5 linked regions of the Homo sapiens genome follow. Changing the gene in region 4 together with the main gene of any one other region gives a genetic interaction. Each region holds a gene or a part of one and is shown on either strand. Other genes may lie near its edges.

Region 1 (6,266 bases), on a different chromosome or scaffold from region 4:
GGGCAACAGAGCAAGACTCTGTATCAAAAAAAAAAAAAGTCATGTCTCTATATTTCAGTCAGTAAATAGCCTAAGTGTCTTACAAAAAAATACTTCCCAAAGGACTGCCAACTATTAATCATACAATTTTGTTGAAATACAAACACATTTATTTATATATTAAAACAGCATAATCGGCCAAGCACAGTGCTCACACCTGTAATCCCAGCACTTTGGGAGGCCGAAGCGGGTGGATCACTTGAGTCAGGAGTTGGAGACTAGCCTGGCCAACATGGCGAAACCTCGTCTCTACAAAAATTAGCTGGGCATGGTAGCACACACTTGTAATCCTGTTACTCAGGAGGCTGAGACACAAGAATCACTTGAGCCCGGGAGGCAGAGGTTATAGTGAGCCGAGATCATGCTGCTGCACTTCAGCCTGGGCAACAGAGCAAGACTCTGTCTCAAAAAACAACACACAGGCCAGGAGCGGTGGCTCACACCTGTAATCCCAACACTTTGGGAGGCCGAGGCAGGCAGATCACTTATGGTCTGGAGTTCAAGACCAGCCTGGCCAACATGGTGAAACCGCATCTCTACTGAAATTTACAAAAATTAGCCAGGTGTGGTGACGGGCACCTGTAATCCCAGCTACTCGGGAGGCTGAGGCAGGAGAACCACTAAAACCCAAGAAGTAGAAGTTGCAGTGAGCCGAGATTGAGCCACTGCACTCCAGCCCAGGTGACAGAGCGAGACTCTGTCTCAAAAAACAACAACAACAACAACAAAAACACACATAATCTATTCAACAATGTCCCCTTGTAGTCAATCTATAAAGGAAAAGTAACTGATGTCAAATCAACGTTTTTACTTTTCTCATCTATTACAGATACAGGAAAAAAATCAAAATTTTCTCAATCACAAAAAAGATAAGCCTGAGGCAGAAGAATAGGATCTAGAGGCAAAGAACTTAAGGTTGTTTCACACAGACTTCCTACAACTACATTGAAAGGAAAACCCTAACTTTCCATGACTAAGTAACAAAAGGACCAGAGGCTGCTCCCTTTGACCTTTTCTGCATGGCAGGTGGGAAACTGGCTGTCCGGAACCACTCAGACTGATTGCTGGTGGAGTCTTAGTTTGCAGAGAAGTATAACTTTGTCTACTTTTCATTTGCATAGAAGCATAACTTTGTAACTTCACCTTAGCCTCTGAGTGGCTGCTTTCCGCAACCAATCAGACTAACTGCAGGCTACCACTTCATTTACAAGAGGTGAGCATGAAGTGGCCAATGGGAAACTTCTAGTGGGTATTTAGACCCAAGAAGATTCTGTATCCGTGCCCTTGAGCCCGCTGCTCGGCCCACTCCCACACTGTGGAGTGTACTTTCGTTTTCAATAAATCCCTGCTTTCATTATTTTGTTGCTTCCTTCTTTGTGACCTATGCAACATGATGACTAAATCCTGAGCCATTAAAGGCAGGTTCATTCATCAAGGACCAAAACGTTCATGTTCATTCAGCATTCGTGGGTCTGCTCTACCCAAGAAGTTTTCTCACTCTTCATTGGTTCTACCAAGCATAAGCAAATCAAACAACTCATTGAGAGAATGTCATCAGCCAATAAAATAAGAAACTGCTCCCAGGCCCTGAATCAGCTTATTAAAATTGACCTCTGGGACTAGCTTCTCCTAATACATAAAATTATAAAAAAGACTTAGACACAGAACCTCAAGTCTGTTCTACCAGGAAATTTTACACAAGTATTCCAGAAATCAACCAATCATTCTAACCCATTAGTGGTATTCAGTAAGATTGAAAGTATTCAATAAAATCAGAACAAAATGTCTCATACAAGATTTCTGGGCAGGGCATGGTGGCTCACGCCTGTAATCCCAGCACTTTGGGAGGCCGAGGCGGGTGGATCACGAGGTCAAGCATTCGAGACCAGCCTGGCCAACATAGTGAAACCCCGCCTCTATTAAAAATACAAAAAATTAGCCATGTGTGGTGGCGGGCGCCTGTAATCCCAACTAGTCAGGAGGCTGAGGGAGGAGAATTGCTTGAACCTGGGAGGTGGAGGCTGTGGTGAGCCGAGATTGCGCCACTGCACTCCAGCCCGGGCAACAGTGCAAGACTCTGTCTCAAAAAAAAAAAAAAATTACTGACTCAACAGATTTTACAGTTTATTTAAATATTAGTCCTAACTCAAAGGAAAAAGTAACAAATGAGTCTGCTTTATTTAAAGACTGCAAGTGAGCAGAGGCCGGAAAAAGGGCAGAGCTCACCTGGCCGGTGTCTATTGGCTGCTTCAGCAGGAAGGGTGCTGCCCTGGAACCTCCGAGCTCCACTCTTCCCACCAGTTCCACCAGGATAGTGATAGATGACAGAAGCTGAACACAATCCTTCCAGGGCAGCTGGGCATTAAGAAAACAAAAAACAAAAACCAGAAAACAAAAAACAAAAACCAGCATCATTAGTCAAGTCAGTGACCCTTCATTAGCTCAAACTGCAGTAACTAACAATGATTTAAACAGGTGGATTATTTGGAAATGCCAATTTTTCTCCCAAAACAAAGATCAAACCTAAAGATCACTAGTTTTTTGCAAATGGGAACTTGCCACCTGTCTTTCCCATGCCCATGTCCAGGCAGGCAATGCAGAACACTCTCACCACACTCAAGGTTTCCCTGCAGGGCTGACTGCACACGTAAAACAGGCCAGCCTCTGCGTTCATCCATTCACGTGGCCGGCATTCCTGCACAAACTGTGTGGCAGACTGCGCCAGGTTCTGGAGCTACAGAGATGTATAACAGAAAGTGCCCTGGATTGAAAATATTTCACAGTAATAGCACCAAAGCAAGACCAGAATGCCTTTCCAGACCATGCACCCCATAGGCATCTGCTCCTTTTGAGGTTGTAGTCCTCCCTCTTCCTCAAAAACAGCCATATTAACTCGCTACACAGTCCGTTCTTCTCTCATGACGTAACAACCTAATAATCTCCAGCTATGCCACATGCCTTAGAAGGTGTGCCACAGTATTCATCTCTATCATCTTTATCCATTAACTCAGTGCTCCTTAAACTTTTGGTCTAAAAACTCCTTGATGCTCTTAAAAATGACTTAGGATCACAAAGAGCTTTTTTTGTGATGTGGGTTACACCTGTAGATATTTACCATATTGGAAAATAAAACTGAGAAAAGGATTTAAGTATTTATGTATTAATTCCTCTTAAAATAGGCCAGACGCAGTGGCTCATGCCAGTAATCCCAGCACTTTGGGAAGCCAAGGTGGGTGGATCACTTGAGGTCAGGAGTTCAAGACCAGCCTGGCCAACATGGTGAAACCCTGACTCTACTAAAAATACAAAAATTGGCCAGGCATGATAAAACACACCTGTAGCCCCAGCTACTCGGGAGGCTGAGGCAAGAGAATCGCTTGAACCTGGGAAATGGAAGTTTCAGTGAGCTGAAATCACGCCATTGCACTCCAGCCTGGGCGACAGAGTGAGACTGACTCAAAAAAATAAAAATAAAAAATAAAATAATAAGCTTGTCATGTGTTAACAGTTTTATGAAAAATAATTGTTTTCCAAAACAAAAATAAAGTACTGGAGGAATGGCATTATTTGACATGTTCACACATTTCTTTAATATCAGAGTTAATACAAGTCAGCTGGATCTTCTATCAGCTTCTACATTCAGTCTGCTGTGATGTCAGGCCTAAGTAGCTTGTGGACAACTCCACTGTCCACTTCTGAGAGGCTGAGCATGGAAGAGGCCCACGGCACACAGCACCGTCCTTCTCTGTGTGCCCTTTAGGAGCCCTCCTCATCCAGTCCAGCGCCGCATGGGGAAGGCATATGGGCAGTACCAGTCTTTCTGGAGAAGCACCTGCTGCACATGCCCTAGTCTCAGAGCCCACTGGGAGATGCACAGATTCTCTAATTGATACAATAAGGAGTACTTAGGGAGACAATGCTCTTTCAAGAAAACCAAGTAAAACTATGTCTTTCTCAGCCTGCATAATCCTTTATCTGATTCTCTTTTCTTTTCCATCCCTAATTCTTACTCCCTTTCTTTCCCCACTTCTATTTCCCTAGCCTCTTTAAAAAACTAAATTTAAGTCCATTTTAAGTTTTATTTTGGTTTTTTCTTAAGAGACAAAGTCTCACTCTTGCTCAGGATGGAGTGCAGTGGTGCGATCGTGGCTCACTGCAGCCTTGACCTCCTGAGCCCAAGCGATCCTCCTGCCTCACCCTCACAAGTAGCTGGGACTACAGGCACAGACCACCAAGCCCAGCTAATGTCTTTTTATTTTATTTTATTTTATTTTATTTTGGTAGAAGTGAGGTCTCCCTATGTTGCTCAGGCTGGTCTCCACCCAGTTAATGTTTTTTAATTTTGTTTTGTAGAAGTGAGGTGAAGTAAGATTTTTTTATTTTTTATTTTTTGTAGAAGTGTTGGGATTACAGGCATGAGCCACCATGCCTGGCCGTTTGAAGTATTTCTTATATTTGGCTGGGCACAGTGGCTTATGCCTGTAATCCCAGCACTCTGGGAGGCCAAGGCAGGCATATCAGCTGAGGTCGAGTTCAAGAGCAGCTCGGCCAACATCGCAAAACCCCGTCTCTACTAAAAATAGAAAATTTAGCCGGGTGTGGTAGTGCATGCCTGTAAGTCCCAGCTACTCGGAAGGCTGAGGCAGGAGAATCGCTTGAACCCAGGAGGCGGAGATTGCAGTGAGCCAAGATCATGCCACTGCACTCCAGCCTGGGCAACAGAGCGAGACTCCGTCCCCAAGAACGAAAGAATTTGTTATATTTAATATGTTCTACGGCACCTCGTTAAACTTCTGTTACAGAACTCACCTCATTACTTCATTCCGACTTGTATTATCATAAGTGGCTGACAGGTGTCCTTGCTAAACTGTCAACCTCAACGAAAGAACCCTGTTTTAGTCCTTACCCACACAATGGACTCAGCCAGTCCATCCTCCCAGGACCACCTCCAGGAGGCGCAGTCCCCAAAGGGAAGACCACACACAGACATCCGATTCCACCACGAAGTGTCAGCAACATCTCAGGCAGGGCACCCGCTCTGCCGACTGCTGCGGGGGATCAGAGATGGCTGTGCTTTGAAGTAGGATTTCTTCTTCCCTTTCTTTTAATTTTTAAGATTGACATAGAGTTCACATACCATATAATTCACCCACTTAAAGTGTGCAAGTCAGCAGTTTTTAGTATATTCACAACTGTGCAACCATCACCACTAACTGACTCTGGAACATTTTCATCACCCCAGAAAGAAACCTTATGCCCGTTAACTGTCACTTCCCATTCCCCCTCCTCCCAGCCCCTAGAACCAGTTGTCTACTTTCTGCTTCTATAGATTTGCCTATTCTAGCCACTTCATATATATAGAATCATACAATCTGCGGCCTTTTTCATGCCTGCCTTCTCTCACTTAGCACAAAGTTGTCAAGGTTCATCCGTGCTGCAGTGGTATCACAATTTCACTCCTTTTCATGGCTGAATAATATTCCGCTGTATGCCCATACCACATTTCGTTTATCCATTCATCATGTGACACATGGAGGAGGTTTTGAGGGAGGAGTCTAAGAGGTGAAGATCATGGGGAACGGCATCCAAAGCAGAGGGCAAGGTATACTAAGAACAGAGGAAAAGGGAAAGTGTGGGCAGGGCCTCCTTCAGAGGACGCATGGCAGGGTGGGAGGAGGGCAGCAGATACAGCAGGGAAGCATCCCAGGCCACTGCTCGTGGCAACCAGCACAGGCTGGCTGCTTTTCCTCCCTCATCCCTTCTTTTTGGGGAATTTCTTCTGCCGTTTCCTCTCATTTCTTTTTTTATTTTATTTTATTTTTTTTTGAGATGGAGTCTCGCTCTGTTGCCAGGCTGGAGTGCAGTTGTGCAACCTCTGCTCACTGCAACTTCTGCCTCCTGGTTCAAGAAATTCTGCTGCCTCCGCCTCCCGAGTAGCTGGGACTATAGGCGCGTGCCACCACGCCCAGCTAATTTTTGTATTTTTAGTAGAGACGTGGTTTCACCATGTTGGCCAGGATGGTCTCAATCTCTTGACCTCATATTTGGCCTGCCGTAGCCTCCCAAAGTGCTGGGATTACAGGCGTGAGCCACCGCACCCAGCCTCTCATTTTAATTAACAGTTGAAACAATTACATATCAGATCATCTTCATCAGCTCATCTTACCTCCAAGCCACAGAAAGTCATTCACAGAACGCAGCAGCTCCACCGACATGTGGTAATGCAC
Region 2 (6,266 bases), on a different chromosome or scaffold from region 4:
GACATTACAGTTTTTTTCTCAGTATATGATAAAGGCAACAAAGAAAAAAATTTGGATTATGAAAACTCAATTCAATAGTTTATTGCTTTTTGGTAAAACATTATATTTACATTAAAAGTTTTTAAGTTGCCAGTGATTTTACTAGAATTATTTCTAGGTTGTAAGCCTGAGACACATTATAAAAGTCACCTTTAATTAAGAACAAACAAACAGAAAAGGAACAGGACCCATGAAGAAAACAAGTTGGCCTAAAAAGTTGGAAGAAATTTGAAAGAAGTCATACCTCCCCTCAGACGGATGAACTTACCCTTCTCCTGTGAGAGCACAGCAGGATTGAATGTGCCATGGATGATCCTTAATTGAACTAAGGGTGAGGTATTTCGAGATTTCAGCTGCTGTCATACACCCTTTCATATCCTGTTTATTTGCAAAGATAAGGACTGCAGCCTTCCGTAAATCCTGCAATCAAGACAAAATATTTCTAATATGTGAAATACCACAATTTAAATTTACCCAGCTGAACAGTTATAATGAAGTGCTTCTACTTTAACATAATCGGGCACTAGTATTTAACATAAAAATAATCTCAAATACCCGTAATTTCATTATTCATTCCAACAGATTAATATTAAATAATTATTTTTTATTTTTGAGTCGAACTGGTCAAACTGAAAAAAAAAAATACACCTGAATTTTAAATACTGACTCAAAAATACATAATTAATATTCTAATAGGCAAATATGGTAGTATGTTGCCAAATACTAGAGTTTATCCAAAACTTAAGAGTACTGGTGGTGGGAGCTGGGCAATACTTATTACTTACTAGTCTTTGTATAACATAAGGTCATTGGTTAATATTCATTTCAGCATTGTTTATACTATGAAAACATTAGAAGAATAGATTGTGATATACTCATACTGTGGAAAACTATACAGTTGTTAAAAGGAATGAACGAAAGCAGTACATATTAAGATGGATAATCAGAATATATTATCATGGATAAGTCACAATGTTGTACAAAAAGAGCAAGATTCAGAAAGATATATATTATATAGTATAAGTTTGAAAAACATGGAATACAGGCCAGGCACAGTGGCTCACACCTGTAATCCCAGCACTTTGGGAGGCTGAGGCAGGCGGATAACGACATCAGGAATTCAAGGCCAGGCTGGCGAAGATGGTGAAATCCTGTCTCTACTAAAAATACAAAAATTAACCAGGCGTGGTGGCGGGTTCCTGTAATCCCAGCTACTCGGGAGGCTGAGGCAGAGAACTGCTTGAACCCAGGAGGCGGAGGTTGCAGTGAGCCAAGATCGCGCCACGGTACTCCAGCCTGGGCAACAGAGCAAGACTCCGTCTCAAAAAAAACAAAAACAAAAACAAAAAACAAAAAAAAAACCTTTCAGTTATTGAAACTTTTGGGGAAAAGACCCTTAAGTTTTCCTTTTGCTTATCTCAATTTATCAGACTTTTAAAGGCATGCTTAAGTAACTTTAGCTTTGAAAAATTTTTACAATAACAGTAGTAATCTACAAATTAATGTGTTAGGGTTTTTTAAGTTTGAAAAAGTAATGAACATTTTTTTTTACCTCAAGACTTTCATCAGTTTAGTACATAAAGTTGTGTTAATCATAAAATAGCCAACATCATATCACATTAATCTTTGCAAAAAAGCAAAGGCAACGTACAGATACTTTACTACACTGTTTTTTAAAGATTTACTTTAAAAATTTACCTCATGAGCCAACATTCTGTATAATTCTTCTTTTGTAATAGCTAGTCGTTCCCTGTCAATGCTATCAACAACAAGAATGATGAACTAGAAGAAAATTAAAAGGAAAGACAGAAAATTGAATGGGATGCTGAAAAGTTTTCTGTAAAACTACTCAAGTAATCTAAGTACTTTCTCTACATGGCATCATCATTACTATAAAACATCTACTGCTTTTTCACCATAAACAGCTTTTATAATACTGAACCACATCAAGCAGTAAAATCCAAATGTTAACAGTAAGAAAATAACTCATAGCTTCAACAAATAAAAACTGTGCCCCACTTGTTTTATTTTAAGTGATGCCCGAATACATAATACTATGATTTGTTTTCAAATGCTGGTAGTAAAAAGCAATTTTTGAAAAGAAACTTACACTAATTTCAATAATATTTTTCACTAAAACTTCAAAGTACTCCATTATCATTCATCTAAACAGTCAATAATTGCTTACTTGTGTATACCACAATCTCCTAACTCTTAGAAAGAAAAGCTAGTTTGAAAGAAAAAGATAAATGCATTTTAAAAATAAGACAATTTTATAAAACAGTATCCACCATAAATGCTCCAGATTGAAACATATATACTTAGGCATTATATACTGGAGATTCAGGTGAAATTAAATAAAGGCAAGACACCAGAAAAAAGAGGAGAAATCTGTTGGTAAAGCTATACATGAAAAAAGGGAGTTTGCATATTAAAAAATAAGAAGATATAGGCCAGGCATTGTGGCTCACACACATATAATCCCAGCACTCTGGGAGGTGAGGTGGGATGACTGCTTGAGCCCAGGAGTTTGAGACTAGCTTGGGCAACATAGTGAGAACCTGTCTCTCTACAAAAAATAAAAATTAGCCATGCACATAGTCCCACCTACTTGGGAGGCTAAGGTGGGAGGACTGCTTTGAGCCTAGGAAGTTGAGGCTGTACTGAGAATCATGCAACTACACTCCAGCCTGGGTGAGAGAGAGGCCCTAACTCATTTTTTAAAAAATGTGGGGGGTGGGTGAGGGGGAGGAGGAGGAGGAGATGGAGGAGATGATACAGCGAAAAAGCACCCTTAAGCTGAACACTGTATACAGAATAAAAAGTTAAGAAATGAGATGAAATGATGTTATTACAGCAGGAGATAGATGCAAAATAAACTGAGACATGAAGGGTAGAATTAGATTACAGAGATGACTTTAAAATTAGGGAAACAGGCTAGGTGCAGTGGCTCACACCTGTAATCCCAGCACTTTGGTAGGCCGAGGTGGGCATATCACTTGAGGACAGTTCAAGACCAACCTGGCCAACATGGTGAAACCCTGTCTCTATTAAAAACACAAAAATCAGCCAGGTGTGGTGGTGTGTACTGTAGTCCCTGCTACTTCGGAGGCTGAGGGAGGAGAATCCTTTGAACCTGGGAGGCGGAGGCTGCACTGCTCTCCAGCCTGGGTGACAGACTGAGACTCCATCTCAAAAAAATAAATAAATAAAAAACAAAAATAAATAAAATTAGGGAAACAGACAACTAATCTGAATATAAACTGAGTTGGGCTTAGAAGGGAATAAACGGAAAGAATGTCGCGTGGCAAAGGAGGAATCAACAGAATATGGGAAACAACTGTGAGTTAATGAGAGGAAGGTGTCAATAATTACTTAATACCTGTAACTTCTTGTATTATAATGGACATACTACCGCTTTTGGGGGACTCTTCCACGTGAAGAATTTTCAAAATGCAAAGTGACAGGCGCCACTGTTCTTTGTAGTAATTTTGATATTCTTGTAGAGATCACTTATTAAAAGAACGTTTCATGCAAATGGCATCAGTAATGGATATCTCTTTCTGGACCCATGCTAAGTCCTCCAGAGTTTCAGTCACTTCAAGAACTACCCTTTCGACACACTTTAAGTACATATGGATTCACTAGAATCAACTTTGACCTATTCATCAATGATAACTGCCCTTTTCACAGCTGGAGTTAACTGTGAGCTTAAAACTACTAACAGCTCTGATGTTTAAATTAATCATATGCTACAATGTCATTTGTCCCTTACTTTCTTTTCTTTTTTTTTGAGAGAGAGCGAGACTCTGCCACCCAGGCTGGAGTGCAGTGGTGCTATCTCAGCTCACTGCCACCTCCGCCTCCCAGGTTCAAGCGATTCTCATGCCTCAGCCTCTGGAGTAGCTGGGACTACAGGCACATGCCACCATGCCTGGCTAATTTTTGTATTTTTAGTAGAGATGGGGTTTTGCCATGTTGGCCATGCTGGTCTTGAACTCCTGGCCTCAAGCAATCTGCCCACCTCGGCCTACCAAAGTGCTGGGATTACAGAAGTGAGCCACTGCGCCTGGCCCTTCCCTTACTTTCTAACTTATTCTAGTTTCAGAACATTATTTTACTGTATAAATGTATAAGCTACCCTTTAACTATATTATTTGCTTACAGCTTCTGCATACCCAATAAAATAATTCAGTGCTACCACAAGTTCTGATTATCTATGATACGCCATCTTTGTTTACTTACACGTTGCATTGGAATATATACACACATACACACATGCTATTATAATATAAATCTAGAACAATACATGTTTTTTAAAGAGGCAACTTTGTTCACCAAAAATTATTCATATTATATCCTTTTCTACCTCTTCCCTTCCAACTCCAATTTTTTTTTTTTTTTTTTTTGAGATAAGAGTCTCGTTTTGTCACCCAGGCTGGAGTGCAGTGGTGCCACCTCGGCTCACTGCAAACTCTGCCTCCTGGGTTCAAGCGATTCTCCTGCCTCAGCCTCCTGAGTAGCTGGGGACTACAAGTCTGCCCCACCACGCCCGGCTAGTTTTTTGTATTTTTAGTAGAGACGGGGTTTCACCTGTGTTAGCCAGGATGGCCTCAATCTCCTGACCTCATGATCCACCCGCCTCGGCCTCCCAAAGTGCTGGGATTACAGGCGTGAGCCACCGTGTCTGGCCCAACTCCAATTTTTAAAAGGTTTCATTTTAGAAAAAAATAATTGGTTAGGTGTACTTCTTTGCAAAGAACAATTAAATGGATGCAATTGTGAAATCATACTATCAAGGATAAATCTCTCTAAACTACATTGAATGGCTTTTAAAAAAATCTGCCTCTAATAAGAAATAAAAGCAGAAATAGAACATGAATATATCCAGGTTTGTTCCCCAAGTTAGCTCTGAACTCATAAGTGGCAGAGAACTTTGAGAGATGATTTGCAAATCTACTTTTTTCTAATTAAAAAAAAATCTACCAACATTTTGAATGTTCATGGTATAAAAAATTTTTAAATTAATAAAATATTTTATTCCTCCACCGGTCAGGGTCTCTTAGAAAGTTGTGAGATCTTGGGGAAACCTACATAATATCTCCACGTGTCAGATCTCTCCAACCCTGGAGACATGAAAATCTTGTGAAGATGAATGGAGAGAACCTGGCCAAACAGTAAGCACTCAAGTAATAATAGCTCCAAACAATCTTTCTATTTGCCTTTTCTTTTATTCGAAAACCCAAATTCTTAAGTCTCATTTATGAAATTTTTATTTATTTATTTTTTAAAAAAAGGAAACCCAAATTCCCTACAAAAAAGGATCTTATTAAAAGGCCGGCCACGGTGGCTCAAGCCTGTAATCCCAGCACTTTGGGAGGCCAAGGAGGGTGGATCACGAGGTCCCGAATTCAAGACCAACCTGATCAATATGGTGAAACCCCGGTCTCTACTAAACATACAAAAATTAGCCGGGTGTGGTGGCACTCGCCTGTAATTCCTGCTATTTGGGAGGCTGAGGCAGGAGAATGGCTTGAACTCAGCAGGCGGAGCTTGCAGCGAGCCAAGATCACTCCACTGCACTCTAGCCTGGCGACAGAGCAAGACTCCGTCTTAAAAAAAAAAAAAAAAAAGGCAACTGTCAATACGCCCAGGTGCAGCCTAATTACTTTCTATGTTTACTCTAGGGACCTTTGGATTAAAATTCAAAATTCATCTTAGCATACCTCTGTATTTGAGTAATATGTGTTCCAGGATGATCGCAGAGACTCCTGACCACCAATATCCCACATAAGAAAATGAGTGTTCTTCACAACTATTTCTTCAACATTGCTTCCTATGGTTGGAGAAGTATGAACCACTTCATTCATTAAGCTGTTGAAAAACAGACACCGTAAAAGCTCTTGTAAATCTTGAGAATCTGAAGCAACTTTTATCTCTGTATTTTTAAGATCAATCAACCTTCTGCACCAATGATGGTGATCATTAGCATGAAAATTATAAACCTGGAGAACACTTGCGCAAATCAATATCTAGATAACAACTCCAGAAGAAAGACTTGTTTCTTGTTTGTTTTTTTTTTTAACGGAAGGAATTGCAAGCTTGATGGAAAAGAAAGGAAACAGTGTGGTGTGAATTTGCATTTCTGTGGCCAAAAATTCCAATACCACCATGCCCTGTTATCAGTTAGATAAGACCCAATGTCCCATGCCATCCTGAAAAGCAAG
Region 3 (6,266 bases), on a different chromosome or scaffold from region 4:
AGTTTTAACTCAAGGTAGGACAGCATCCCTCGCTTGATGGTAACTTTTTGTCTCTTGCCTGGCAGATCTGTGCGAGAGCGAGAGAGTCACAGTCGAAAGAGTGCCAGCTCCTGTGATGTTTCATCCAGCCCTTCCCTACCAAGCCGCACACTGCCCACTGAGGAAGTGAGGAGCCAGGCTTCTGACGACAGCTCCCTAGGCAAGAGTGCCAACATCCTGATGATCCCACACCCCCACCTGCACCAGTATGAAGTCAGCAGCTCCTTGGGATACACCAGCACTCGAGGTAAGAGTGCTGAAGCACAGACAGAGCCAGGGACATCTTTCTTAATATAGTGGGTGACTGGAGGTGGGAGGATTGGTCAGAGGTGGGGTGTAAATCCCACATCTTAATGATTTCTTTGCCAGTGCAGTAGGTACAAATCACTTTAGCTGTTAGCTATGTATATATTATACTTCTTTTTTTTTTTTTTTTTTTTTTGGTGACAGAGCACCTAGGATAAAGTGCAGTGATGCAATCACAGCTCACCTCAGTGCGGCCTTGAACTCCTGGACTCAATCGATCCTCCCACCTCTGCCTCCCAAGTAACTGGGACTATAGCATGCCACCACACCCAGCTGATTATCATATTTTTTTTTGTAGAGGTGGGGAAGTGCAGTGATGCAATCACAGCTCACCTCAGTGCGGCCTTGAACTCCTGGACTCAATTGATCCTCCCACTTCTGCCTCCCAAGTAACTGGGACTATAGCATGCCACCACACCCAGCTGATTATCATATTTTTTTTTGTAGAGGTGGGGTTTTACCATTCCCAGGCTGGTCTTGAACTCCTGGACTCGAGGGATCCACCCATTGGCCTCCAAAAGTGCTGAGATTACAGGCATGAACCAATGTTACCGCACCCTGCCTCTATTATACTATTTTTTGTTTAGCCTTTCTTCATCCATCATTTAACTGTATGCCTTTCCATATGTTAATGGAAAGCTTTTCTTAGGCCTAGGGTCAAAAGGGTTTATTTCCTTATGATTTCCATTTGTGCCATATATAAAACAACCTCTGTCTTAATGTTGCATTTTAGTTTCTCATTTACCGGTCGGGCGCAGTGGCTCACACCTGTAATTCCAGCACTTTGGGAGGCCAAGGCGGGTGGATCACTTGAGGCCAGAAGTTTGAGACCAGCCTGGTCAACATGGTGAAACGCCGTCTCTACTCAAAATACAAAAATTAGCTAGGTGTGGTGGCGGGTGCCTGTAATCCCAGCTACTCAGGAGGCTGAGGCAGGAGAATCACTTGAACCTGGCAGGCGTAGTTGCAGTGAGCCGAGATTCCACCACTGCACTCCAGCCTGGGTGACAGAGGGAGACTCCACCTCAAAAAAAAAAAAACAAAAAACTTTTTTTTTCACTTACCTGTTTTTTTTTAACTTTTATTTGCATTGATTTTGTACCGAATTTATTCCCATACTATCAGTTTTTGTTTCTTCAGTTTCTTTCTTTTCTTTTTTTTTCTTTTCTTTTTTTCTGAGACAGAGTCTTGCTCTGTTGCCCGGGCTAGGGTACAGTGGCATGATCTCAGCTCACTGCAACCTCTGCCTCCTGGGTTCAAGTGATTCTCTTGCCTTAGCCTCCCAAGTAGCTGGGATTACAGGCACACACCACCACACCAGCTAATTTTTGTTTTTTTAGTAGAGATGGGGTTTTGCCGTGTTGGCCAGGCTGGTCTCAAACTCCTGGCCTCCAATGATCCACCCACCTCGGCCTCCCAAAGTGCTGGGATTACAGGCGTGAGCCACCATGCCTGGCCTTGGGATATCTTTTTCTTCTGTGCAATGTCCTCTTCTGGTTTAGGAATAATTTATTCCTTTTCCATGAGGATCATCTTGGTTTCGCAGGGGGAGCTCATGTATGGGTTAATCTGACCATGAGCTCTTTACATCAGGCAGCACATCTTGGGTGCTTTGTTCACCTGGACATGCTCAATGACCAGAGGATCTGCACCTGAACCCTTAAGTTCGGCATGACTGTGCATTTTTAAGCATATGTAGCAATAATTCAGTACTCTTTTTTGGCCACTGACCCCGTGTGCAGCCGTGCTGTGTGGCCTGGGACCACCTACTATCTCCATCATTGTAATGTGGAAATGGTACACATTGTTTCTGTAAAGTGACATATTTCTTTCTTTCTTTCTTTCTTTTTTTTTTGTGATGGAGTTTCACTCTTGTCCCCCAGGCTGGAGTGCAATGGCGTGATCTTGGCTCACTGCAACCTCTGCCTCCCGGGTTCAAGCAATTCTCTTGCCTCAGCCTCCCGAGTAGCTGTGATCACAGGTGCCTGCCACCATGCCTGGCTAATTTTTGTATTTTTAGTAGAGATGGGGTTTCACCATGTTGGTCAGGCTGGTCTCGAACTCCTGACCTCAGGTGATCTGCCCACCTCAGCCTCCCAAAGTGCTGGGATTACGGGCGTGAGCCACCTTGCCTGGCCAAAGTGACATCTTTCATATACTTGGTGGCTTTTTATATATGCATACCCTTGATGGCCTGAGCAGTTTCATGGGTGGTTTCTTTTATTTGTTTGTTTTGAGACAGGTTCTCACTCTGTTGCCCAGGCTGTAGTGCAGTGGTACAATATTGGCTCACTACAGCCTCAACCTCCTGGGCTCACGTGATCCTCCCACTTCAGCCTCCCAAATAGCTGGGACTACAGGTGTGCACCACCACACCCGGCTAGTTTTTAAAGTTTTTGTAGGGACGGTCTCAATCTGTTGCCCAGGCTGGTCTCGAACTCCTGGGCTCAAGTGATCCTTCCACCTTGGTCTCCCAAAGTGCTGGGATTACAGGAATAAGCTACTGTACCTGGCCTGTACTCATCTTTTTTTTTTTACTAGGTTTTTCTCTTTTATTTCCTTAATAACTAACTAGACTATGTTCTTTTTTATTTTGTAAGTTAGAGCATCAATTCATTAATTTACAATGAACAGTAAAACTTTCACAGAAATCTGAACATTCTCTTCTTTCCTGCAAAGCAACTTGAGGAATGAAATACAGTATTACAGTGTATGAGGTTCTGTGCTAGGCATTGGGTAGATAATGATGGCCAAGACAAATTCCTTGGAGTTTGCATCTGCTGGACCCACTTTTTCATCTGGGTGGTTGCTTAATGAACATGGAATACACACAAGAAGAGTTGGTTGTGGATTTCAGTTCTTTGATCCACTCAGGCATGCTGTCTCTGTCTCCATAATGGGACCTGTCTACCATTGCGCCAGACAGGTGGTGTCTAAATATCATACCATCTCCTTGCCTGGTCAAGGCTGGAGGCATCCATTTCTTCGTTATTTTTTTCTCAGTAATTTTTTTAGCATAATAACATTTTATTGCTTACTCATGTCCCAGCCCACTAAGTCAGTGGAGGGGCTACTGATCCACTCAGTCCATTCAGGAACTCAGGTTCCTTCCATCCTGGGATGCCATGATTATCAACATTGGTCTCCTGGGTTGCCACAAAGGGAAAAAGAATGCAGATCATTTGTGGAGATCATTGTGGTCCAGGCCTGGATTTGAAGCATATAATTTCTACCTGGCCAGAACTAAGTCATTTGGCTTTATTGCAAAGGGTCTGGGAACTATAGTCTTGTGTCCAGTAGGAAAATCAAATGGGTTTATAGTGAAGACATTGACTAGCTCTGCCAAGATCTGCCCTTCTGGTGACCACATAGCTATTTTTATTGTTCCTCCCTCTTAGAGAATATACTCGTTCCTTTCCCAAGGGAGACAACTCAAGTCCCATCATTCAGTCATTGCTTCCAGCTCAAAGTTCAGGATCTTCAGGCAGTGTCCTTCCCATCAGATTTGGTTGTGACTTCATTTTGCCAGTAATTTAGAACCAAAACTCCCTTCTCCCAAGTATTTAAAAGCAAACAAATGCAAACATATTTCATTTCTTTATAGTTTGACAGTTTTGCTCATTTCTCTCACTCCCTGACATTTATAATGCCCAAGATTCTTGTCAGCCTTGGTTTATCATTCTACCTAGCTCTGGTTTCACTGTGGTTCTGTGGTTTTTCTTTGTGACTCAACTCCATGATAACTGGCAGATGTCCTGGAGAACATGATGGAGCCACCACAGCGAGACTCCAGTGCACCAGGGAGGTTTCACGTTGGCAGTGCAGAATCCATGCTGCATGTTCGACCTGGTGGATACACGCCCCAGAGAGCACTGATTAACCCCTTCGCTCCCTCTCGGATGCCCATGAAGCTTACGTCCAACAGAAGGCGCTGGATGCACACTTTTCCTGTGGGTAAGTTGGTTGCTTAAGAGAGAGCCTTGGACTAGGAGCTCCTAGCCCTGGTCCTCAGTGTCGGTCACCCATGTGTCCTTGGTCAGGTGCCTCTGTTGCTCCACCTGTAAGATGGGATAACCATGCCCACTTTGGCCATCCCAGGGGTTCTTGTAAAGATCCTTGAAGATGCACTTGGGAATAGGCTTTGTAACTAATTAGCTGTATAAACCTGAGGGCTTTTTTGTTTGTTTCTGCCCTTTTTTTTTTTTTTTTCTTTTGAGACAGGGTCTCACTCTAGTTGCCTAGGCTGGAGTGCAGTGGTGCAGTCTCAGCTCACTGCAGCCTCAACCTTCAGGGCTCAGGTGATTCTCCCACCTCAGCCTCCCAAGTAGCTGGGACTGTAGGTACGTGCCACCAGGCCTGGCTAGTTTTTTGTATTTTTAGTAGAGACAGGGTTTCACCATGTTGCCTAGGCTGGTCTTGAACTCCTGGACACAAGCAATCTGCCCACCTTAACCTCCCAGAGTGCTGGGATTATAGATGTGAGCCACCGCATCCGGCCCTTTGTTTCTATTTGAGAGGAACTATGCATTGCCACCTGCTTTCTTTCCTAAGTCAGATGTCCCTCATTCTTGTTCATTCCTTCTTCTCTTAGATCTCTTGGATATTGATATCCTGTCTTGGTTACAAGGAGTTATGTTGTTTTGTTTTCTGTTAGGTCTCTCTGACAACTGAAAAAAAATTTTCCCCTGAATTCACTTTTTCCTAGTCCATTCTTTTTTATCTATATTCTGTTCTCAAGAAGATGACAGTAAGATTGTCTCAAGCTGTGGCTAAAATTAAACTTTAGCTTAATGGGCTCTTATTGAGCTGGAAAGGAACAAATGCATTAAACTCCAGGATTTTGTGTGTGTGTGTGTGTGAGACAGTGTCTCACTCTGTTACGTAGGCTGGAGTACAGTGGCGTGATCTCAGATAACTGCAACCTCTGCCTTTTGGGTTCAAACAATTCTTCTGCCTCAGCCTCCCAAGTAGCTGGGATTACAGGCATACATCACCACACCTGGCTAATTTTTGTATTTCTAGTAGAGACGGGGTTTCACCATGTTGGTCAGGCTGGTCTCAAACTCCTGATCTCAAGCAGTCCACCCACCCCGGCTTCCCAGTGTGCTGGCATTACAGGCGTGAGTCACCGTGCCTGGCCAAATTTTTATTTTATTTTTTTCATGGAAACCATCCTGCTGAATACCTGGAAATGCCTATTTTCTTTTGTACTTGCCTTTAATATTTAAAAGTTAAATAAGTGAGAAATAGATCTGAATCATTTGGCTGTAACTGGGGGGTCATGCCTAAACCCCGTTCTGCCCCCTTATCTCTGCTATAATCAGTCACACTACTTGTTTCTTTCTGTGTCCTTTCCCCTCCATTATTGTCTCCACTGGTTCCCTTCCAGGTCACTTAGAACTCTTGGTGTTTCTTCAGTGACCTTCATCTTTTCATGCTTCTGTGCTTCTCCTCCTCCCACTCTTCATGTACACTTTATTGGAACCATATTCTGCAAACAGTTTGCTTCGCTTCTTCCTCCTGTTTAGCTGGCCTTTCAGTAGCCAAGGCCCTCCTTCATCAGGGTTCCCTGTCTTCCTCATTCCTATCCTCAGAGGCTCTCTTCCTTCTTGGCTAATCTTGTGGTCTCCTGCACGTTTTGCCTCTTTCAGGTTTGGGATTTCACAGGTATCATTTCATCTACCCAGATGCCCTCTTCCTTCAATCGCTGTTAACTTTGTTGAACACTTAGCTCTACAAGTTCTCCTTTCCCAGGAAGCCTCATTTTGTAGACTTGACTAATTGTAATTTGTTTCCTACTCTGCCTTTTTTGCACTTAAACATCTTCTGCTTCTTAGAGTCACAGTTGTTACTCTCCTAGGTATTAACAGAATCATTTGGTGTTTCACTTGTATTTCCCTCTTACTGAGTTTGTGTTAGCC
Region 4 (5,670 bases):
AAAGGCTCTGGAGCAGGAACAGACTTAATTATTACTTAAATTCTCTTTGGGAAGGATCTTACCCTTTGGAATATAAGTGTATATCTCTAAAGAGAAGACTAGTGTCTCCATAATTACAGCAACCAGAGATGTCTTCACGGTCCCAGGTCTCATCGCCCCTTGAAATGAGCGTACTGGAGAAATAAATATCTCTGTGTAATGGAATGAACTGTGCTCCTCAAAATTTATATGTTAAAGCCCTAAACACCCAATTACTGTATTTGGAATTAGGATCTTTCAGGGGATAATCAAGGCTAAGTGAGCTCATAAGGGTAGGCCCCTAAGCCCACAGGACTGGAGGAAATATCAAAGATGAATGCACACAGTGGAAGGGTTATGTGAGGACACAGCGAGAAAGTGGCTGTTTCCAAATGAAGAAGAGAGGCTTCAGGCTGGGTGCAGTGGCTCATGCCTGTAATCCTAGCACTTTGGGAGGCCAAGACAGGAGGATCATTTGAAGTCAGGAGTTCAAGCCCAGCCTGGCCAACATGGTGAAACTCTGTCTCTACTAAAAATACAAAATTAGCTGGGTGTGGTGGCCGGCACCTATAATCCCAGCTACTTGGGAGGCTGAGGAAGGAGAATTGCTTGAACTTGGGAGGCAGAGGTTACAGTGAGCCGAGATCAAGCCATTGCACTCCAGCTTGGGCAACAGAGTGAGACTGTGTCTCAAAAAAAAAAAAAAAAAAAGAAATTCTTCAAAATTGTTAACAGCAAAGAAGCCCATACCCAAACACAACTGCTTTAAAACTAACAGATTTTGTAATAAAAGTTCCCAGTAAAATTCCTTTTTTTTTTTTTTTTGAGATGGAGTTTCACTTTTGATGCCCAGGCTGGAGTGCAGCGGCGTAATCTCAGCTCACTGCAACCTCCACCTCCCAGATTCAAACGATTCTCCTGCCTCAGCCTCCCAAGTAGCAGGGATTACAGGTGCCTGCCAAAACTCCTAGCTAATTTTTATATTTTTAGTAGAGACAGGGTTTCACCATGTTGACTAGGCTCATCTCAAACTCCTGACCTCAGGTGATCCACCCGCGTTGACCTCCCACAGTACTGGGATTACAGGTGTGAGCCACTGCACCTGGCCGAAATTCTTAATAATTCCAAATAAAGAAACAGCGCCATGCTTCTACCTGCTCTCCTCTTTGTCCAGACATTTTTTTTTTTTTTTTTTTGAGAAGAGGTTTCACCATGTTGGTCAGGTTGGTCTCAAACTCCTGACCTCGTGATCCACCCACCTTGGCCTCCCAAAGTGCTGGGATTACAGGCATGAGCCACCTCGCCTGGCCCTTTATCTTTTATTAATAGTCTGGGTGGTGGCTCATGCCTGTAATCCCCTGAACTTTGGGAGGCTGAGGCAGGTGGATCACCTGAAGTCAGGAGTTGGAGACCAGCCTGGCCAACATGATGAAACCCCATCTCTACTAAAAGTACAAAAAATTAGCTGGGCGTGGTGGCGCGCACCTGCAATCCCAGCTACTCCGGAGGCTGGGGCAGGAGAATCACTTGAACACGGGAGCCGGAGGTTGCAGTGAGCCGAGATCGTGCCATTGCACTCCAGCCTGAGTGACAGAGTGACTGTCTCAAAAAAAAAAGAAAAAAAAAAAGAAAAAAAATTAACTAAAAAAATAATTGAGGATGGCTTCATAAATAAAGAAAACAAAAGATTTGTTAGTAAGTGTAAGTTACTTGAAATTACTGCAGTTGGTTCTAATTGTGCCAATCTACTGTAATTTTAACAAGACTAATTTGAAAGTAAATTTAGCTACTACTTAATAAAAATGAAAACAAGATATTTCATTAATGTTTTATTTTTTAGAGAATCACTTTAAGCAATTAAATAACCATTTATCTAAAACACTGGATAATTTATTTCAAATATATTCCAAATACTTAAACACTGCATAAATATTAAGGTTTAACACACATCTTTTAATAAATTAACCAAATATAACTAACAGTTCAGATATACTCAAAACACACCACACAAAACTATCAAGGCTAATGCTAGATATTCCAAAAGTGGTAACAGAAATGATTGTGTGCTGTGTATCTCTAATTCAAACTTGGACATGGGCACAATAATTTCATAAAGATCTCAACAATGACAGCTTTCAACATTGAGTATTTTTTCCAATTTTACACTAATTCTTGCAAAGGCAACATCTGGGGACAACAATAGATATAGACTCACCAATATAATTTGACAGTGGTAATTTATCAATTTACCAAATATGCCACTTCCTTTTTTTTTTTGAGACAGAGTTTCGCTCTTGCACCCAGGCTGGAGTGCGATGGTGCGATCTCGGCTCACCGCAACCCCTGCCTCCCGGGTTCAAGCGATTCTCCTGCCTCAGCCTCCCGAGTAGATGGGATTACAGACCTGGGCCACCACACCCGGCTAATTTTGTATTTTTAGTAGAGATGGGGTTTCTCCATGTGGGTCAGGCCGGTCTTCAACTCCTGACCTCAAGTGATCTGCCTGCCTTGGCCTCCCAAAGTGCTGGGATTACAGACGTGAGCCACTGGACCCGGCCGCATTTTTTTTTTTTTTTTTTAATTGAGACTGAGTCTCACTCTATTGCCCAGGCTGGAGAATAGTAGCACAATCTCGGCTCACTGCAACATCCCTCTCTCAGGTTCAACCGATTCTCCTGCCTCAGCCTCCCAAGTAGCTGGGATTACAGGTGCCCACCACCATGCCCGGCTAATTTCTGTATTTGCAGTAGAGACAGGGTTTCACCATGTTGGCCAGGCTGGTCTCAAACTCCTGACCTCAAGTGATTCTCCTGCCTAAGCCTCCCAAACTAATGGGACTACAGGTGTAAGCCAACACACCTGGTTCAAATATGCCACTTTCTTAAATATCAAATTTTTTTCCAATCTTATATTTCTCTAATTTTATAGGGGCAGGTGATAAAAAAATTTCAATTTCACTAACTCTGACTACAAAATTAAACTTTTCCAACATTTAAGATCATTTCAAGGAAAATAAGAATAGGCTTTAATATTTACATTAGTGATTGATTAATTGTAGCTGACTGGGGTATTCAATTTTAGAAATTTAAGATAATTCCCGCCAGGTGCAGTGGCTCACACCTGCAATCCCAGCACTTTGGGAGGCCGAGGCAGGCAGATCACGAGGTCAGGAGTTTGAGACCAGCCTGACCAACATGGTGAAACCCCGTCTATACTATACAAAAAAATTAGCCAGGTGTGGTGGAAGGCACCTGTAATCCCAGCTAATGGAGAGGCTGAGGAAGGAGAATCACTTGAACCCAGCAGGCAGAGGGTGCAGGGAGTCATGCCACTGCACTCCAGCCTGGGCGACAGAGCAAGACTCCATCTCAAAAAAAAAAAAAAAAAGAAATTTAAGATAACTCCCTAAGGATTGTACCTGTACCTTGTGCATTTCAGTCATGCCATTTAATCATTATTCTTCACATAAAATTGTTATAAAGTTATATTGTCTATATTGACAATAAAAAACTATTAAACTGTAGCAACCTTTTTCTAAATGAGTCAAGACTTCTTATGAGCTATGCAAATTAATATTGCTGATATTTAAATATGATCTCTTTCATTACACATTTGGGCAAAATTTTTTTAGAGTAAAGGTGATTAGTCATAGAACTTTCTTTCTTTTTCTTTCCTTTTTAATTAAAAATAGAGATGCAGTCTCCCTGGTCTCGATCTCCTGAGCTCAAGCAATACTCCTACCTTGGCATCCCAAAGTGTTGGGATTAAAGGTATGAGCCACTACACCCAGCCCATAGACTTTTCATTTACTATATAAAGTCTTTTTCTCCTACAAAATATCCATTCTCCTTCCCCAAAATAAACAAGGCTCCTTAAAGGCAATCTTTATAATCCATAGTCAAATAAAAGTTTTTATTCACTTAAGCAGGAGGGAATGAGTTCAGCACATTAATTAGTCTGCCCTGCTATAAGACCTGCCTCTTCCAAAACAGAATTCCAATAAGGAAAATAAGCTATCCATGCTGATTCTACCTTGCTAGCAAATTGGGGAAGTAACATGAAGACTCTAATAGTGGTTTGACTGGTAGAAAATGAAAGAGCTCTCAGTCCCAAACCAAATGGTGATTACATAAAAAATTTGGCATTGTCAAATCAGGCAGATACAATCTAAAGTAAAAAGAGCCAGCAGCGGTGGCTCACGCCTGTAATCCCAGCACTTTAGGAGGCCAAGGCGGGAAGATCACCTAAGGTCAGGAGTTTGAGATCAGCCTGGCCAACATGGCAAAACCCCATCTCGACCAAAAATACAAAAATAAGCTGGGCGTAGTAGTGCACATCTGTAGTCCCAGCTACTTGGAAGGCTGAGGCAGGAGAATCGCTTGAACCCGGGAGGCGGAGGTTGCAGTGAGCAGCTTGGGCAACAGAGCCAGACTCCATCTCAAAAAAATAATAAAATAAAATAAAGTAAAAAGAACATGGTCTGCAGTAGGTGTTTTTGTTTTGTTTTTGTTTGTTTGTTTTTGAAACGGAGTCTCGCTCTGTCGCCCAGGCTGAAGTGTAGTGGCGCAATCTCAACTCACTGCAAGCTCCGCCTCCCGGGCTCAAGCAATTCTCCTGCCTCAGCCTCCCTAGTAGCTGGGATTACAGTCGTGTGCCACCCTATGCCTGGCTAATTTTTGTATTTTTAGTAGAGACGGCGTTTCACCATGTTGGCCAGGCTGGTCTCAAACTCCTGACCTCAAGTGATCCACCCACCTCGGCCTCCCAAAGGGTTGGGATTACAGGCGTGAGCCACCATGCCCAGCCTGCAATAGGTATTCAAAATCCTCCCTAAGAGAAAATAATTGTGCCTCGCTATCTACCAAAGACATTGGTTAAAAAAAAGTCTCAGCAGTTACAATGTACAGTATCACCTTCCCTTCTGTAACCAAAATACTTATTAAATATATGAATGCTAGTTATCAGATTATTTTAAAAGTTTATTTTCTTTCTCTAATAATAAGGTAAAATACATTTTGGAAATCTGCATGGAATGTTCCCAACAAGTTATTTCATTTTAGCAGGGTCTATGACATACAGCTTTAGTCATTCTTTCAATTACTTGGAACCACAGAATTCTCCAAAATACAAAAATTAAATTTTCAGCTTTTATATCAAATAATGGTCTCAACCATTTAATACAAAGCAACATACTTTCTCAGGTTTCTGTTAATAAGGCAAAATAAAAGTCACTCAGAAAAAAAAGGTTAAATCATGAAGATTTCTCTTTTGTAGGATATAATTCACCCCTGTGGTTTCTCTTCTACCATTAATGTCTTATCTACTCTAATTCCTTCAAAGTTTCAAGTTCAATACAGTATAACATATGCAGAGATTTTATAGTTTTTATCATAGATTTTTTTTTTCAACATTGTTTTCAGGATGTTTTAAACACTTTCACAACTATTACCTCAGATTTGTGATTATGGCTTATAGTACGGTCTACTTTCAAAACCATGATTTTTGGATCATGGCCCATCCAAGATTTTACTCTGTTCAGAAAAAGAAAAAAAATTACATATCCAGAGTTTCACAAGCAATTCAGGGGTTTTTCCCACAGACATCAAAAACCTTGCAATAAAGGGGTGAAATCCAAAAATTACTTTCGATTTC
Region 5 (6,099 bases), on a different chromosome or scaffold from region 4:
GCACTGTCTTGCTCACTGCAACCTCTGCCTCGCGGGTTCAGATGATTCTCCTGCCTCAGCCTCCTGAGTAGCTGGGATTACAGGTGCCTGCCATCACACTCGGCTAATTTTTGTATTTTTTGGTAGAGACAGGGTTTCACCATGTTGCCCAAGTTGGTCTTGAACTCCTGACCTCAGGTGATCCGTCTGCCTCAGCCTCCCAAAGTGCTGGGATTACAGGCGTGAACCATCACGCCCGTCTTTCTCATCCCTTATTAACTGAACTAGATGCATTAAAGTCAAAACCTTGAGAAAGAGGCTCAGTTCAGCCTCTGTAAAAATGAAGACTTGGCCCTGCTATAAGAACTGGGATGCAGGAGGGAGAAGATCAGTTCCGGTTGTTTCATTAGGTCTGAGGGTTGTATGTCAGTTCCTAGAATAGAAAAGTTTTGGCAAAATGTAAGCTGTGGTCACTATAGTTGTAGGTGAACCACCTTAGAAACAGTGTATGCAAATAGAAGACTAAAAAGGTATTCCTGAGCCAAATAGAATTTTTGAATGGCTTTTTGCTACTTTCTATTTTTTTTTCTTTTTTTTTGAGACGGAGTCTCGCTCTGTCGCCCAGGCTGGAGTGCAGTGGCGCGATCTCGGCTCACTGCAAGCTCCGCCTCCCGGGCTTACGCCATTCTCCTGCCTCAGCCTCCCGAGTAGCTGGGACTACAGCCGCCACCATGCCCGGCTAATTTTGTTTTTTTTTTTTATTTTATTTTTAGTAGAGACGGGGTTTCACCGTGTTAGCCAGGATGGTCTCGATCTCCTGACCATCCTTGGTCCGCCGTCCTTGGCCTCCCAAAGTGCTGGGATTACAGGCCTGAGCCACAGCTCCCGGCCGCTTCTTTCTTTTACTCTAGAGGTTGGTCATTAAACAGTTACGATTCATCTTTTTCGTAAGTTAGACATCTAAAATAAGCCTCTGGAAAATGCCTGCTTCTCCGCCAATTTTGATACTGGCTTTGCTTTCTTTCTGACCTCATGTTTTTCTTTTCCCCAGTGATTTCTTTTTTTTTTTTTTTTTTTTTTTTTGAGACGGAGTCTTGCTTGATCACCCAGGCCAGAGTGCTGCAATCTCCAACCTCCACCTCCCAGGTTCAGGCGATTCGCCTGCCTCAGCCTCCCGCTGGCTGGGATTACAGGCACCCGCCACCATGCCCAGCTAATTTTTGTATTTTTAATAGAGATGGGGTTTCACTATGTTGGCCAGTCTGGTCTCAAACTCCTGACCTCAAGTGAGCCGCCTGCCTCAGCCTCCCAAAGTGTTAGTATTACCAGCGTGAGCCACCACGCCTGGCCTCCCCAGTGATTTCTTGTAATTTAATTTGAGAAACCAAGAGAATCTGAAGTCTTAATATACTTTTAAGCCTAATTAAGGAATCAACAATGTAATTTTAAAAATTAATTTCTGTGGTACATTTTCAAAGCACACCTTTCATTTGCATTTTTCATTTTGTTCTAGGAGCTCTTTGTTCAATGCCTAGCCACCTATTCCTACAGACACGGCAGTGGAAAGGAAAAGAAAGTACTGACTTACAGTGATTTAGCAAACACTGCACAGCAATCAGAAACTTTTCAGTTTCTTGCAGGTACTTAGTCTTTGAAACATTCTGGTTAAAAAATGATTAGTAATCAATAGCTCTTTCCCCACCCCTTGCCTCCCTTCTGCTCTCACGGAAAATTAGACTTTTTGCTACTTTTTCCAAGCCGCAAAGTACTATGAGTTGTCACAGGAAGATACTTTTAGTCTTCTCTGTTTGAATGTGTTTGTCATGTGGTCCACCTAGAACAATAGTGAAGCCAACAACATTCACAAGATGTTGGTTGGCCGCGTATGCTGGGCAGTCCTTTACTCTCTACAGGGACCCTGCCTGCCACTGAAGGGAAAACTCAGGGTGGGTCTACATGGCCGTAGTTAGAGCTTAAGTCTACCCTGGGGCTAGCCTAGGCTATCTCAGGTAGTCGGGCAGGGTTGCTCATAAAAGCAGCTCATAGAGACACCATGGTTTGTACTCATTGGACTGGAAAGAGGCCTATAGCGTTCGTTAGGAGACAATGCTAGTTTCTTTGATATTTTACCCAGAAATGCAGCCTGAATTTCATCTTGTTTTGGAACCTCTTATAGAGGTCAAAGCAGGAACTAGTACATTTTGAAATGTGCATTGCTGTGTTCATAGTCTACCATAACCAATTGCTGATGTACGCTTTATGTTTTTAAGATATATTACCAAAGAAGATTTTAGCTAGTAAATACCTGAAAATGCTTAAAGAGGAAAAGAGGGAAGAAGATGAGGAGAATGACAATGATAATGAAAGTGACCATGATGAAGCTGACTCCTAAACCAAAAGTGCTTTAAAAACCAGCCTGGCGAGGACAGCCCTGGACCCACTCCACTGTCTCTAAGTAAACACAGCACTGCCCGCTTTTAGCGTCTTCACTTCTTCACAGAGTTCCAGTGTGTGGTATTCTTTCGAGGTATTCTTTCCAGGCCGAGATTGAGCACCTCATGTACCTACGCCACAGACAGCCAGAGGGAAAGCGACCCAGACAGCAGCCCCTCCTCGACAGGCCCACCCTGCAGCTCAGGCACCAAGAAAACAGCCGATACTGGCAGCCATTGCAGCTCCAAACTGCAGAGGCAAGGCCAATTTTAACTTTTCAATTTACAGTCGATTTTGAAGAGCTTCTACATATCGGTTATGTAAATTCATATATGTATATTTTGGAATCAGTTCTTATAAACAGCTCGATTCAGTTTTAGCTAAATTTATAGTTTAGGTAGTATGTTACATTTGAATTTTTGTCTTAAGAAAAGTTGACTGTTCAGATATTTTTCTACTGTAAAGAAATATACTTTTCTATTAAAGATCTGTACATATTTTTACAGTAAAATGCTTTATGGAACTAGTTTTAGAGCCCTCTATGGCTTTAAGGCCTTGCTTACTGCCTGCAAATTTTGAGAAATTTAAAAATAAGCATTCTAACACTTTTATTCCCACAGAAAAATTCCAAGTCAAATTATCAAATCAAATACAAAAATAAGTCTTACCTCTTGTATAAGCATGTTGTACTAAAAAAAAATTTTGAAACATTTTGTATATTGGAGATCTCTCTCATCTTACTGTTCTTTGCTTTAAATTCCTGGCACTTCTTTTTACTGTCTATAAGAGAAAACCTATCATAAGCCCAATTTTTTTTTTCCACTTAGGGTAAATGTTTGGCTCCTCTCATTTCATTATCTTTTTTTTTTTTTTTTTAAAGACAGATTCTCACTCAGTTGCCCAGGCTGGATTGCGGTGGCGCTGTCTCAGCTCACTGCAACCTCCGCCTCCCAGGTTCAAGTGATTCTCCTGCCTCATCCTCCTGAGTAGCTGGGATTACAGGCGTGTGCCACCATGCCCAACCTATTTTTGTATTTTTTAGTAGAGACGGGGTTCACCATGTTGGCCAGGCTTGTCTCAAACTCCTAACCTCAACTGATCCACCTGCCTCAGCCTCCCAAAGTGCCGCCGGGATTACAGGCGTGAGCCACCATGCCTGGCCTTCATTATCTCTTTTTTAAAAATGAAAAAGTTTATAATTTACATTCAGTAAAATCACCCTTTTTAGTGTCTAGTCTGTGAATTTTGACAAATGCATGGTTTTGTAACCAATCGATAGGACAGTTCTGCCACCCAGGACATTCCCCTCTGTTCCTCTGTTCCTCTCTTCTCCTGCCCCCTAGCAACCACTGGTGTTTTCTGTCCCTCTTGTTCATTGACATTTATTTTAAAATAAAATATTTTAAAATCTACTTTTTGGTGTACAGTTCTGAGTTTTGGCAAATGCAGTCAAGTCACTACCACCACCACAATTAACAGCTATATCACCCTCCAGTAAATTCCCTGTGGTCAGCTCCTTCCCCACCTTTTACCGTGGCAACCGTCAAGCTATTCTCTGTCCCTATACCAGGTGTCATCAAATTTTTTTCTGGAAAGGGCCATGCAGTAAATAGTTCAAGCTTTGTGGGCTTTTATAGTCTCTGTTGCTGCTGCTGAACTCAGCTGTTGTAGCACGAAAGCAGCCAGGTAATTACTAGATGAAGGAATGCAGGTGGCTGTGTTTCAATAGAGCTTTATTTCTGCAAACTGAAACTTGAGTTTTGTGTAATTTTCATGTGTCATGAAATACTGTTTTCTCCAACCATTTAATAATGTAAATACTTGCTAGCTTATGTGCCATTAAAAAATGACTTGATTTGGCTTACAGACCAGTTTGGTGGCCTGTCTTTTCCAGAATGTCATATAAATGGAATCATTCAGTATGTAGCATTTGAGTCTGCAGTTGTTCTGTTTAGCAGAATGCATTTGAGATTCATCCGTGTTGTCACAGGTATCAGCAGTCCATTCCTTTATATTGCTGAGTAGGATTCCATTGTATGGATGTATCTGTTTATCCATTTTCCAGGTATATGGATAATTACCCATTTAGATTGTTTCTAGTTTTGATGATTGTAATTTTTTTTTTTTTTTTTTTTGACAGGGTCTCACTCTGTCACCCAGGCTGGAGTGCAGTGGCATGATCATGGCTTACTGCAACTTCCGCCTCCTGGGTTCAAGCGATTCTTGGGTCTCAGCCTCCTGAGTAGCTGGGATTACGGGCACGGCGTCACCACACTTGGCTCATTTTTTTGTACTTTTAGTAGAGATGGGGTTTCACCATGTTGGCCAGGCTGGTCTCGAACTCCCGACATCAAATGATCCGCCCACCTCGGCCTCCCAGTGATGGGATTATAGGCATAAGCCACCACACCTGGCCTTGATGACTATAATTAATAAAGCCCTATAAGTATTTGTGTACAGGGTTTTTGTTTGTGTTTTTTGAGATGGAGTCTCGCAAACTCTGCTGCCCAGGGCGGTGTGCAGTGGCGCAGTCTTGGCTCACTGCAACTTCTCCTATCTAGGTTCAAGCCATCCTCCTGCCTCAGCCTCCTGAGTAGCTAGGATTACAGGCGCCCACCACCACACCTGGCAAATTTTTGTATTTTTAGTGGAGATGGATTTTTGCCATGTTGGCCAGGCTGGTTTCGAACTCCTGAGCTCAACCAAGTGACCCGCCCACCTCAGCCTCCCAAAGCGCTGGGATTACAGGTGTGAGCCACTGTGCATGGCCTGTGTACAGGTTTTGTGTGAACACGGGATTTCATTTTACTTGGGTATATGCTTATGAGTGGAATGCGATACAGACGTTTATAAGAAGAAACTGCCAAACTGTTTTCCAAAGTGGCTGTGCCATTTTGCAGTCCCACCAGTAGTGAGTTCCAGTGGCTCTGCAGCTCCTACAAAAATTCATGTCAGTTTTTGTTGAGTTTTGAGAGATTTATATATTCTTAATACAAGTTATTTGCCTGATAGGAGATTTGCAAACATTTTCTCCCAGTCACTTTTCATTCTCTTAATAGCATCTTTTTTTTTTTTTTTCGAGACTGAGTCTTGCTCTGTCACCCAGGCTGGAGTGCAATGGCACGATCTCGGCTCACTGCAACCTCCACCTCCCAGGTTCAAGTGATTCTCCTGCCTCAGCCTCTCGAGTAGCTGGGATTACAGGTGTGTGCCACCATGCCCGGCTAATTTTTGTATTCTTAGTAGAGATGGGGTTTTACCTTGCTGGCCAGGCTCGTCTTGAACTCCTGACCTCAAGTGATCCACCCACCTCGGCCTCTGAAAGTGCTGGGATTACAGGCATGAATCACTGCACCCAGCCTGAAGCATTCTTAAGGCACCATAAGTGTTTGAGATCCGATCATTCAGGGAACACTCACCCTTTCAGTTCCTCCTTGAACCGGGTGCCAGGTTGTTACAGTAGCTTCCTAAGTGGTTTCCTCACAGTGCCTACAGCCTTTCCTCTTTCCACCTTGCATACTGCTGTCAGATTATCAAAATGATTTTATGAAGATGAATCTTTTGCTCTCGCTTGCAAGTGTTAAACCATTACTGCTTCTGGCCATTCAGTAAATGATGGTGAAATAGCGAGAATATAACAAAGGCCATATCAAGTGAGTATATTGCTGTAGATGAGTTTCTGTGTAT

Evidence for each region.
Region 1: changes in SLC33A1 (region 4) and TRAPPC9 together harm fitness less than expected from each alone (positive genetic interaction), as found in Homo sapiens cells (one large-scale study listed by BioGRID).
Region 2: changes in SLC33A1 (region 4) and ARL5B together harm fitness less than expected from each alone (positive genetic interaction), as found in Homo sapiens cells (one large-scale study listed by BioGRID).
Region 3: changes in SLC33A1 (region 4) and DEPDC5 together harm fitness more than expected from each alone (negative genetic interaction), as found in Homo sapiens cells (one large-scale study listed by BioGRID).
Region 5: changes in SLC33A1 (region 4) and CHRAC1 together harm fitness less than expected from each alone (positive genetic interaction), as found in Homo sapiens cells (one large-scale study listed by BioGRID).

The regions. Positions count from the first base shown.
Region 1 is NC_000008.11:140,432,847-140,439,112, forward strand, and holds part of TRAPPC9 (trafficking protein particle complex subunit 9), read right to left. Parts: coding exon 6,206-6,266; intron 2,395-6,205; coding exon 2,266-2,394; intron 1-2,265. UniProt on the Homo sapiens protein: Functions as an activator of NF-kappa-B through increased phosphorylation of the IKK complex. May function in neuronal cells differentiation. May play a role in vesicular transport from endoplasmic reticulum to Golgi.
Region 2 is NC_000010.11:18,668,177-18,674,442, reverse strand, and holds part of ARL5B (ADP-ribosylation factor-like protein 5B), read right to left. Parts: intron 5,914-6,266; coding exon 5,766-5,913; intron 1,822-5,765; coding exon 1,738-1,821; intron 460-1,737; coding exon 308-459; intron 1-307.
Region 3 is NC_000022.11:31,814,927-31,821,192, forward strand, and holds part of DEPDC5 (GATOR1 complex protein DEPDC5), read left to right. Parts: intron 1-65; coding exon 66-286; intron 287-489; coding exon of another isoform or gene 490-503; exon of another isoform or gene 504-1,065; intron 1,066-4,095; coding exon 4,096-4,299; intron 4,300-6,266. UniProt on the Homo sapiens protein: As a component of the GATOR1 complex functions as an inhibitor of the amino acid-sensing branch of the mTORC1 pathway.
Region 4 is NC_000003.12:155,819,190-155,824,859, forward strand, and holds the end of SLC33A1 (acetyl-coenzyme A transporter 1), read right to left. Parts: 3' UTR 1,835-5,670; downstream 1-1,834. UniProt on the Homo sapiens protein: Acetyl-CoA transporter that mediates active acetyl-CoA import through the endoplasmic reticulum (ER) membrane into the ER lumen where specific ER-based acetyl-CoA:lysine acetyltransferases are responsible for the acetylation of ER-based protein substrates, such as BACE1.
Region 5 is NC_000008.11:140,512,877-140,518,975, forward strand, and holds the end of CHRAC1 (chromatin accessibility complex protein 1), read left to right. Parts: intron 1-1,492; coding exon 1,493-1,619; intron 1,620-2,249; coding exon 2,250-2,371; 3' UTR 2,372-4,278; downstream 4,279-6,099. UniProt on the Homo sapiens protein: Forms a complex with DNA polymerase epsilon subunit POLE3 and binds naked DNA, which is then incorporated into chromatin, aided by the nucleosome remodeling activity of ISWI/SNF2H and ACF1.